Regions from separate parts of the Homo sapiens genome. Here regions 1 and 3 are each linked to region 2. Evidence: fine-mapped expression QTL. A gene starts in region 2. Each other region holds a variant in brackets. All regions are shown on one strand. Distances are between the middles of the regions.

Evidence for each region. PIP is the estimated chance that this variant, and not a neighbour inherited with it, causes the effect.
Region 1: its variant is the best candidate, but not a certain one, in a credible set for the expression of NEUROD6 in cerebellar hemisphere (GTEx, PIP 0.89).
Region 3: its variant is the best candidate, but not a certain one, in a credible set for the expression of NEUROD6 in cerebellum (GTEx, PIP 0.90).

What each region holds. Positions count from the first base shown.
Region 1 is chr7:31,308,388-31,311,160 of GRCh38, reverse strand. No RefSeq gene overlaps it. Among named protein-coding and RNA genes, the nearest start is that of NEUROD6, 31 kb to the left of the region's middle. The variant G/A (reference allele first, on the strand shown) is at 1,610.
Region 2 is chr7:31,339,324-31,342,096 of GRCh38, reverse strand. NEUROD6 (neuronal differentiation 6) reads left to right here and starts at 1,371. Exons shown (of 2, transcript NM_022728.4): 1 at 1,371-1,504.
Region 3 is chr7:31,211,402-31,214,174 of GRCh38, reverse strand. No RefSeq gene overlaps it. Among named protein-coding and RNA genes, the nearest start is that of NEUROD6, 130 kb to the left of the region's middle. The variant G/ATCTTTTAG (reference allele first, on the strand shown) is at 1,280.

The DNA of each region.
Region 1 (2,773 bases), 31 kb after region 2:
TCCCACTGTATGTAGTGGTATCACTCCCATGATAACATCTGTCCTTCCAAAACAATCCCCACTACTCGCTGGGACTTTTTTGACCCTGGTTGAACCCGCAAAAACTCAAAGACACCTCAAGTGGATTGATCTTTCACCCTGTTGAAAATTAGTCAGCTTCTTGCTGACACACTTTGAAACTTACTTGCTTAATACCATTCCCACTGAAAGGAAACATAATCATTTAAACGAGTATTTAGGTGAGAATATGGATAAATGTCTAAGAGAATGGTCCATAGCAAACTCAGTTCAGAAACCTACTGAAATGACACAAAACAGGAGGGAAAAAAATCCCTCTCTGCTTCTGAAAAGCTGGAGACAAATCTGGACTCTATTCCACTATTTTCCCAGAGCTAGAAAGAAAGTAACTAGTTCATAAATTCCATCAGGAGCTTGGGGATTTTTGATGTAATGAGTTTTACAGTTTCAGAGGAGAATGCTTTGCTAATAATTATGTAACAGTAATTAAATCTGAAAAAGGCTGTACTCTAACTATGTTGATTTATTGCAGCTCCTACAAAGTACTCCTCGAGCGTGCATTGGAGTGTGGGCTGCCTCCCTCCAGTTTTCTTTAAATTCTCACAGAGCACTGGGTCACAGATGGTCTGAGCTGCTATATTTTCCCTATTAAATTCCTAATAATCTTTTTCTGAGGCTGAGTCATGGAAGCCTGGGGATTTCTCATTTTAATTAGAAGGTTTAAGGAGCTAACTCTGTTTGAAATTTTCTCCTAGGAGGGATGGGTGCAGGTGATCCCATTCAGAAGAATGACACAGTACCGGGGCCAGGACCACATTTCCATATTAGATTGCAGCTTGTTTGGCTCGACTCCTATTTCTGAGGTTGATGATGCATTGTCTGAATTTGAAGAATAAAGTTCAGAAAACAGGGTTATTCGGAGATTATTCTTTTTGGGGACATTTTTGGCATTTGCTTCCCATTTCTACTTTGCATATAGAGAAGTGATTCAGGAATGTGAATTATTTATTATCCCAAAAGAAGTTTAAATCATATTGATTTGAGCCATAGTCACCAGTGAACAGATTTGGGGACCATTTGTCCTTCTTTATCCCTATTGTTTTCTTCCTTTGGCTCACTCTGACTTTATTTTTAAATATCTCAAATTCTGGGACAGCCTCATATTAAATATGATCTTCAGTTTTACTAGCAGAAGAATGTAAAAATGTACATGAACAGACAGAACACGATATTTAGAGTAATACCTATAATTTGTTGGGTAATCAGAGAGCAGCCTGCAGGAGGAACCATGGGGCTGGGATAAAATTATCTTTTAGAGTGTACCAATGAGTTTGATCATTTGCAGGAAACCTGTTATGTAAAATGGAGTGTATGGTGCTAGGCACAGTTCTCTTGATATTATAACGTACAAAAAAGAAAATGCTTCTAATAGGGCAGCTGCTCAAGTTTCGCCTCCCCCAGTCACAGAGCTGGTTTCTCTGCTTTTGTAAGATAATGAGTATCTCATGCTTTGAATGTGGCACAATCCAGAGAAGAAGTCAAACTGAACTGCTGCTACCTTTGTAGCCCCCCGTAGTTTTAACAGAAGCAC[G/A]TGCTTCAGAGCTGGCAGCAACTGCATTTTTATAAATCCAAAAAGTATAAGCAACATGGATGCATCATTTAAAAAATCTATTTTGTAAATGTAGGATGCTGGCTTTATAGTTAATTGTACCACAGGAAGATTTTTCCCCCTTTCACATGCTTTCTCTCTGTATTCTAAAATTCTCTGGCCCCTTCGGTTTCAGCAAATTGAGTCATTTCAAGGTTTGAGAAGTATCCTCATTTGGGTATTACTAATCTTCAATGATTATTTTCATGACTTCATATTGTTCATACATTTCTCAGAAAAGATTTTAGTCTTTACCGTCGCAATTTAAAATATAAGCATAAAATATTTATATTTTAAATTCCCTATATATGGAATAAAAATACATAAATATATATATACATCCCACTGTTAGGCTGTGTGACGTTTGCCATGTGTATAATGGAAATTAAATTGAGAAGGAATGTAATAGCTTCCACACTAAATTCTGCATCACATCAGAAGGTTGAAAAAGTAGAGACACGTGCAGCTTAAGAATGTTATACTAAAACCAATTTTAGTATAAAAAAAATTTTTTTAAGGTATTTAAGGCTTTTCAATCTGTAAGCCCAAGCTGATGTTTCTCGAATGTACTGGCTACAGCCATATGTTTAGTGGTTTCATTCGTGAATGTGTGGACAAGTGGCTGAGGGCTGCCAGACTGCCGCTGTGTGAGCAGGCTGGCCTGTGTGATGGGTGTGGATGATACCATGATGGCATGGAAAGCCACCCACACCCCACCATTGTGTGTGGATCCAACCAGGTTCACTCCTAAAGGCCAGATTAAGGGAAGAGGGAGCAACCTTTTTACACCTCGTTCACAAAATGGCTGGCTAGGAGAGTCAATCCTGTAGGAAATGGCCAAGTGAAAATGTATGTGGGTGTAGGGACCTAGAAAAAAATCCCAACTTGTATAGGTTTATTCAAGTTCTTAGATGAAAAACAAAAGCTTTGTCTGAAACTTCCGAATCTCCTTGTACCAGGCGTCATCAAGTTAGAGAACATTCAGTCAGGGGAACAGTTAAGGGCACTATGGCTGCGGCCAGGTTCTTGAAGGAGTTAAACAAGAAAATATATCAGACTTCTGATTAATGGCCAGGGACATTCCAAGCTGCTTTGCCTACCTCAGCA
Region 2 (2,773 bases):
CTCAGTTGCCAAACAACAAAGGTTGCGTTTATTTGTTTATTTTAAAACTTTTACTTATTTTTTTTAAGTGCACTTTTTACTTTACTGGCAGGCAATCCTGAAATCAAATGTCCTTTATAGGGGTGGGGGCACGGGAGAAGAGAAAACAGGAGGAAGGTGGAGTTTGTCTCTGCCTCCACAGTTCGTATTATCTATAAGGCTTTGCCAGCTTTGCTTAACTGTTTCCACCCTGCTTTTGTTAAGAAGAAACCAAAAGTGTGGAGCGGGGAAAAAAGATAAATCTGAAATACACCTGACAGGGAAAAACAACTGGACACTGATACAAGAACAAGAAGATATTTAAATTGATGTTGGTCTAGAGAAAAATGTGAGGACAAGATTTTTAAGAGAAAGAAAAAAATCTGAAAGTCAAAAAAAAAGAAAAAAAAACAAAAACAGGAAAGCTAATCTTTGATTAAAATACTCAGCAGAATGTCAGGGAGAGGAAGACAAACACCTAAGTGATAATTTTTATGTTTATTGTGTCTGAAATGAAATGAGAGGGAACAAGCAAGTTAACGCTGGGAAGAGATAAGGGACAATAAAAGAGTGAAGTTAGTGACTTTCTGCAGAGGACAAAGTATGTAGTTTGAAATCCTTAACAACGGACTTGCAGTGTCTCTGCAAAAGTTGGTGAAAGATACCAGCAAGTGTAGGAAGGGGAGTATTTGAGGATGTCTTTCACAGACCCCAGATGGAGAAGCTGTTCTTTTATTCCAAATGCCTAAGAAGCACAGAAGTCTTACATGTTAATAAGAGAACACAGAGACACACACTCATAAGTTACACGCTGTGAAACAAAACAAGCAAAGGAGACCTTTTTTGACCCCTGTTCACTTACACAAATCTTAGTTTGGTTAAACGTCTTAAGACCAGTTTCCAGCTCCTTTTCACGGCTTTCTTTCCCTGGGTACCCAGGTGCACAAATGGGATGGTGATCTTTACAAAACAACATCATCAACAACAAAAAAAACCTCTTGCTCACACAAAAGCCCACCTTGTAAATGAATGGAATATTAACGATCACCTAATACTTGCACCTTTGGCAGGGCGAAACTGAACACTAACACAGCTATTTCTACAGATTGCCAGTGAAACCGAAGCAGTTCGAGGAGAAATGCACCTACTGTACGTGAAATGCTGGTGCAGATTTTTTTCCTATCAGTCTAACCTTCTGTGTTGATGCATGAAGGCTGGTACCCACTTACAGGGATGCCAGATGATCAGTGCAGAATGAAGGTCCCAAGAGAGAGGATCACATGGCTCTCTCTGCCCTGTGACGTCACTAGCAGATGGCATGGGTACCAGCTCTGGCAGTTGGCATCAATGTCACTTTTTAGAGATCAATGAGATAGTGCAGATATACACAGATCTAGAGACTCCAGGAGACGATGCGACACTCAGCCTGAAAAGATTTGGAAGACCCAAAATGAAAACTGATTATTGAATGAAATTAAAACCTAAGGTAATATAAATAAAGATATACTTCAATTGATGCTGGCTTTGCATGCAAGTATTTAAAGATACAGTGTCACTGTCTTATAGTATTTATATGCTCTTTGCCATCTATAACTTATCATATTTCATTCTTATGATGTAATTATCACATACTTTCACTGCTATTATGTAACACTGCAAGTATGTGGACATTACTAAGAGTTTGTGTATGTGTTCGTGTGTATATGTGTGTGTTGAGGGGGCTGGAGATTGTTAAATTGAAAAGTCTCTGCTTTAATGTGCCTATTTGTTTGAAGACTTTAGATGAAAATACTTGCTGCTTCACCAGACAAAAACCAAAATGCATTTGAAACACAAATTATTTTCCCCTTTCATTTGGGATTCTGAACACACGTGCACAATTGCAGTCAGAATCCTTGGACCGTTCCTGTCAGATATTAGCTAGAGGGAGACTTCTATGGCTCGTAGAACAAAAACACTACGAGAGTGGTTTTTGTCCAGGATGATTTGAACAGCAGTAAACAGACAATTCTATTTGGAAAAAATTTAAATGTAAATAAAATCAGTCTCTATTTTTTTTAATTAAAAGAAATTGCTAGTGATTTTTATGTTTTAAATTTATTTATAGAGTTTATTCCAAATTAGCCTAATCCCCTTTTCTTTTTGAAGCCTGGGAAAATAGTGCCCTTTTACATAATTCTTTACTGATCAGAAAAAATCAGTTGAAAAATTGACTCTGATTATAATCTTTTCTTTAAATTTGTATATTCCCACACCCACTTATCTAAATTCACAGTTGTGTGATACAGCAAATAAAGTTAAGGTTTTGTTTGTTTGTTTGTTTGTTTTAAAAAAAGAACACAAATTTGTCAGCTAATGGAGAGATAGTCCATTTTAAAAACTGGTTTATCTTCTCATTTTGTGCTCAGGGGAATTGGAATTAATGAAATTCTGCATTGCAATTTCATGTTTTGCATTTGCTTGAATTCCACAATCTTTTTTGGGGGTATTAAAATCCAGTTTAAAGGCAAAGAGAAATGTAGATGGTAATGATATCACAATAATTATATGTTTCATTTTTATTTTCTTTTGATAATTTGCTCATATAAATAATCCTATTGAATGCATCAATGTCTTCATAATTACTTATCTTCACAAACTCAAAATTATATTTAATGTTAAAAAATCAGGCCCAGAATCAGTCTTTTTCACGTGTTTTTGTAATCTTATGATTAAATAATTAAATATGTTTTAAGTGTATAAACTTTAAAAATGA
Region 3 (2,773 bases), 130 kb after region 2:
TACTTGTAGTATAGGTTATTTTAATGGACATATCACTTTAAACGAAACCGTCACATCTGTTCCGCCTTCTAATTACAAATGCAAAAGGAATACAATTCACCAATGCATTATAAAAAAGTAAAACACAAGTGATTTAAATGCATATGTATGTTCCTTAGTCAATGCAGCATGCAACCTGCTATGTTTTTTACATGTTCTGGGCACAAATCAGATGGAAAACCTGTTCTCTGCTGAAATGTGATTTCTTCTCCCTGGATAAGTTTGGTACTGTATGGAAGCTGTGGTTTGCATAAATGTTATATAATGCACACAACACACCTAACAAGTGTTTCTAGTGAAACTCTTCCTGGGGACTGATATTTGATGATCAATATGATGCATCACAGCACTTTGATGCTGGCTGAGTACTAAAACATATTAATCTAGAGTACAGGAGAGACTCTCACTGATACATAAGAAATAATTTCTTTCTCTCTCTTCATAAAAGGGGAAAACATGAGAAATATTTCCATAGTGCTAGCCCCAATCGTCCTTGGTCTACAAGGCTGACTAAATAGCATTTACTGCTACCAAGTGACTGTTTAAAAAATTGTGTGCACTTTTCAGAGAATAGGGAAGTGGTATAATAGACATTGGTAAATGATGATATTATTTCTTTCTCAGAGATAATTTGCTCCTATTAAAAATAATCTCATTTAAAGAAAAGTTTTAAATGATGGAGATATTTTTCTGGACCTCTGAGTGGGTCAGGAAGGCAAGAATTTGATTAGAGTTAGAGATCAGGGAAGCAAAATTCCATGGTTAAATAAATGAGGACAAAGCAGCACAATCCAAGTGCCATGACATCAACGACAATCAAACTAACAATTCAACCTTCAGGCTAGAAAAATGTTAAGTTATTCTATCTTTTCCTGAATCCAGGTTGAATTCATCCAGGTTCCTTTGCCTGCTTTGTACCAAGACTGGGAGTGTGATGGGACGTGGTTGAATTCAGTTCTCTCTCTACTGAAAAGCATCTCAAAAGAGGAGGCCATCCTTATCCATGGGTGTACCCCATGACTGAGAACAGAACTTGACAAATATTAGCCAGTCAGGAAGTGTTTTTGAATGAATAAATGAATCTGAAAGTATAAGCAGGTAATTGACTGGTCCTGACAAAATTCTGCTTCCAAAGAGCCACTTTATGTCAAAATACTAAAGCAAGTGTTAATATAGTTTTCAATATGAGAGTAATTTTCCCCCTTAGTTTATTGTGCTGTATCTCCCACAAAATCTTTTA[G/ATCTTTTAG]TATCTCCCTCCTAAAATTGTTGGGAGGATACGATGAGATAATACAAGTAAAGCACTTAAAACAGTTCCTGGCCCATTGTTTCAAAATTCACTGAACACACACAAATACACCCCCACATACACACACACACACACACACACACACACACATGCATGTGTGTGTGTGTAATTGAGAGGCAATAGGCAAACATTTCACTTACTGTGCTTGGGAAATCTTAACTATATGTTTTTGATTTTCACCATGATGGAATATCTATTAAGTGCTAAGGATGCAGGGAATAAAAGAATTGGGACTCAGATCTTGGACTCCTGACTCCTGTGCTACGGATCTCTCCTGTCCACCAGAACCCACTGAACGTTTTTCTTTTCACATCTGCTTTGGTACCAGATGAACCAAAAGAGGCAGGTTATTGATCCTCCTCTTCAGACTCAGTGAACTCATCTGTAGATTAGCTGAAGGAACTAGTGGCTTATAGGGGTCTTTAGGCATGAATATTGCGGTTTGTAGGGTTTTACATAAGCAGTAATTAATTTTACAGTACTTCAGAAATCTGAGATATGAATATATTATTACCTATAAAAGATGAGAATTTCATGGGAGCTATGATGGAATGACTACTACTATTACTAGACAGACTTCAGGGATATTCCTGATTCTAGCAGTTTCAGGTAGTTTACTGTATCTGATTTTTTTTCAAAAATTGGGAAAACAAATGCAGACAACTAACAGTAATATTGGACATTCATGAATTTTACAAACGAACAACTATCTTTTATGCATCTATCATATGGAAACTTTCTTCTGTGTGAATAGAAAGAGGCACTAGAATTTTCACAGGAAGGTTATAATAAGACATTGACAGAATTAAGTTCATCCCCAGATAGCAGCATGCATCGGGTAAACTAGATTCTAACTAGTTATATGTGCTTCACAGACAGACTTTCCACGATGTTGTGGAAAATGACAGTGCTTTGAGGCAAATATGTGTAATGTGATAGGATTAGGTAAGTTTTCAATAAAACTGTGTATGTATACACAAATTAATACTAATGTTATGGAAACATCATCAGATACATATGCCCACCAAATTCATGACAGTGATCACCTTTTGGGCACAAATGGTCAGAGAGAAAATGTAATTGTTCAGATAAAATTTAAAATCTCTATGAAATGTGGATTCTGAAGGAAATATTACTGAAGTTTACACTTTTAGTATGGGGAGTGAGTATTACTAATAATAGGTAACCTTAATAGAACATTTACTATATGTCTGGCAATATTCTAAGCCAGTTATTCTCACCCTTAATATAAGCCATGGTTATTTTGTACACTTTTATCTATGACCCAAATAACTGACCCAAAGCCTGGTCAATTTCTGTATTTTTGGTGGTTTCTTTTATTTATTTATTTATTTATTTATTTATTTATTTATTTATTTGAGACAGGGTTTCACTTTGTTGTCCAGGCTGGAGGGCAGTGGTATGATCTTCGCT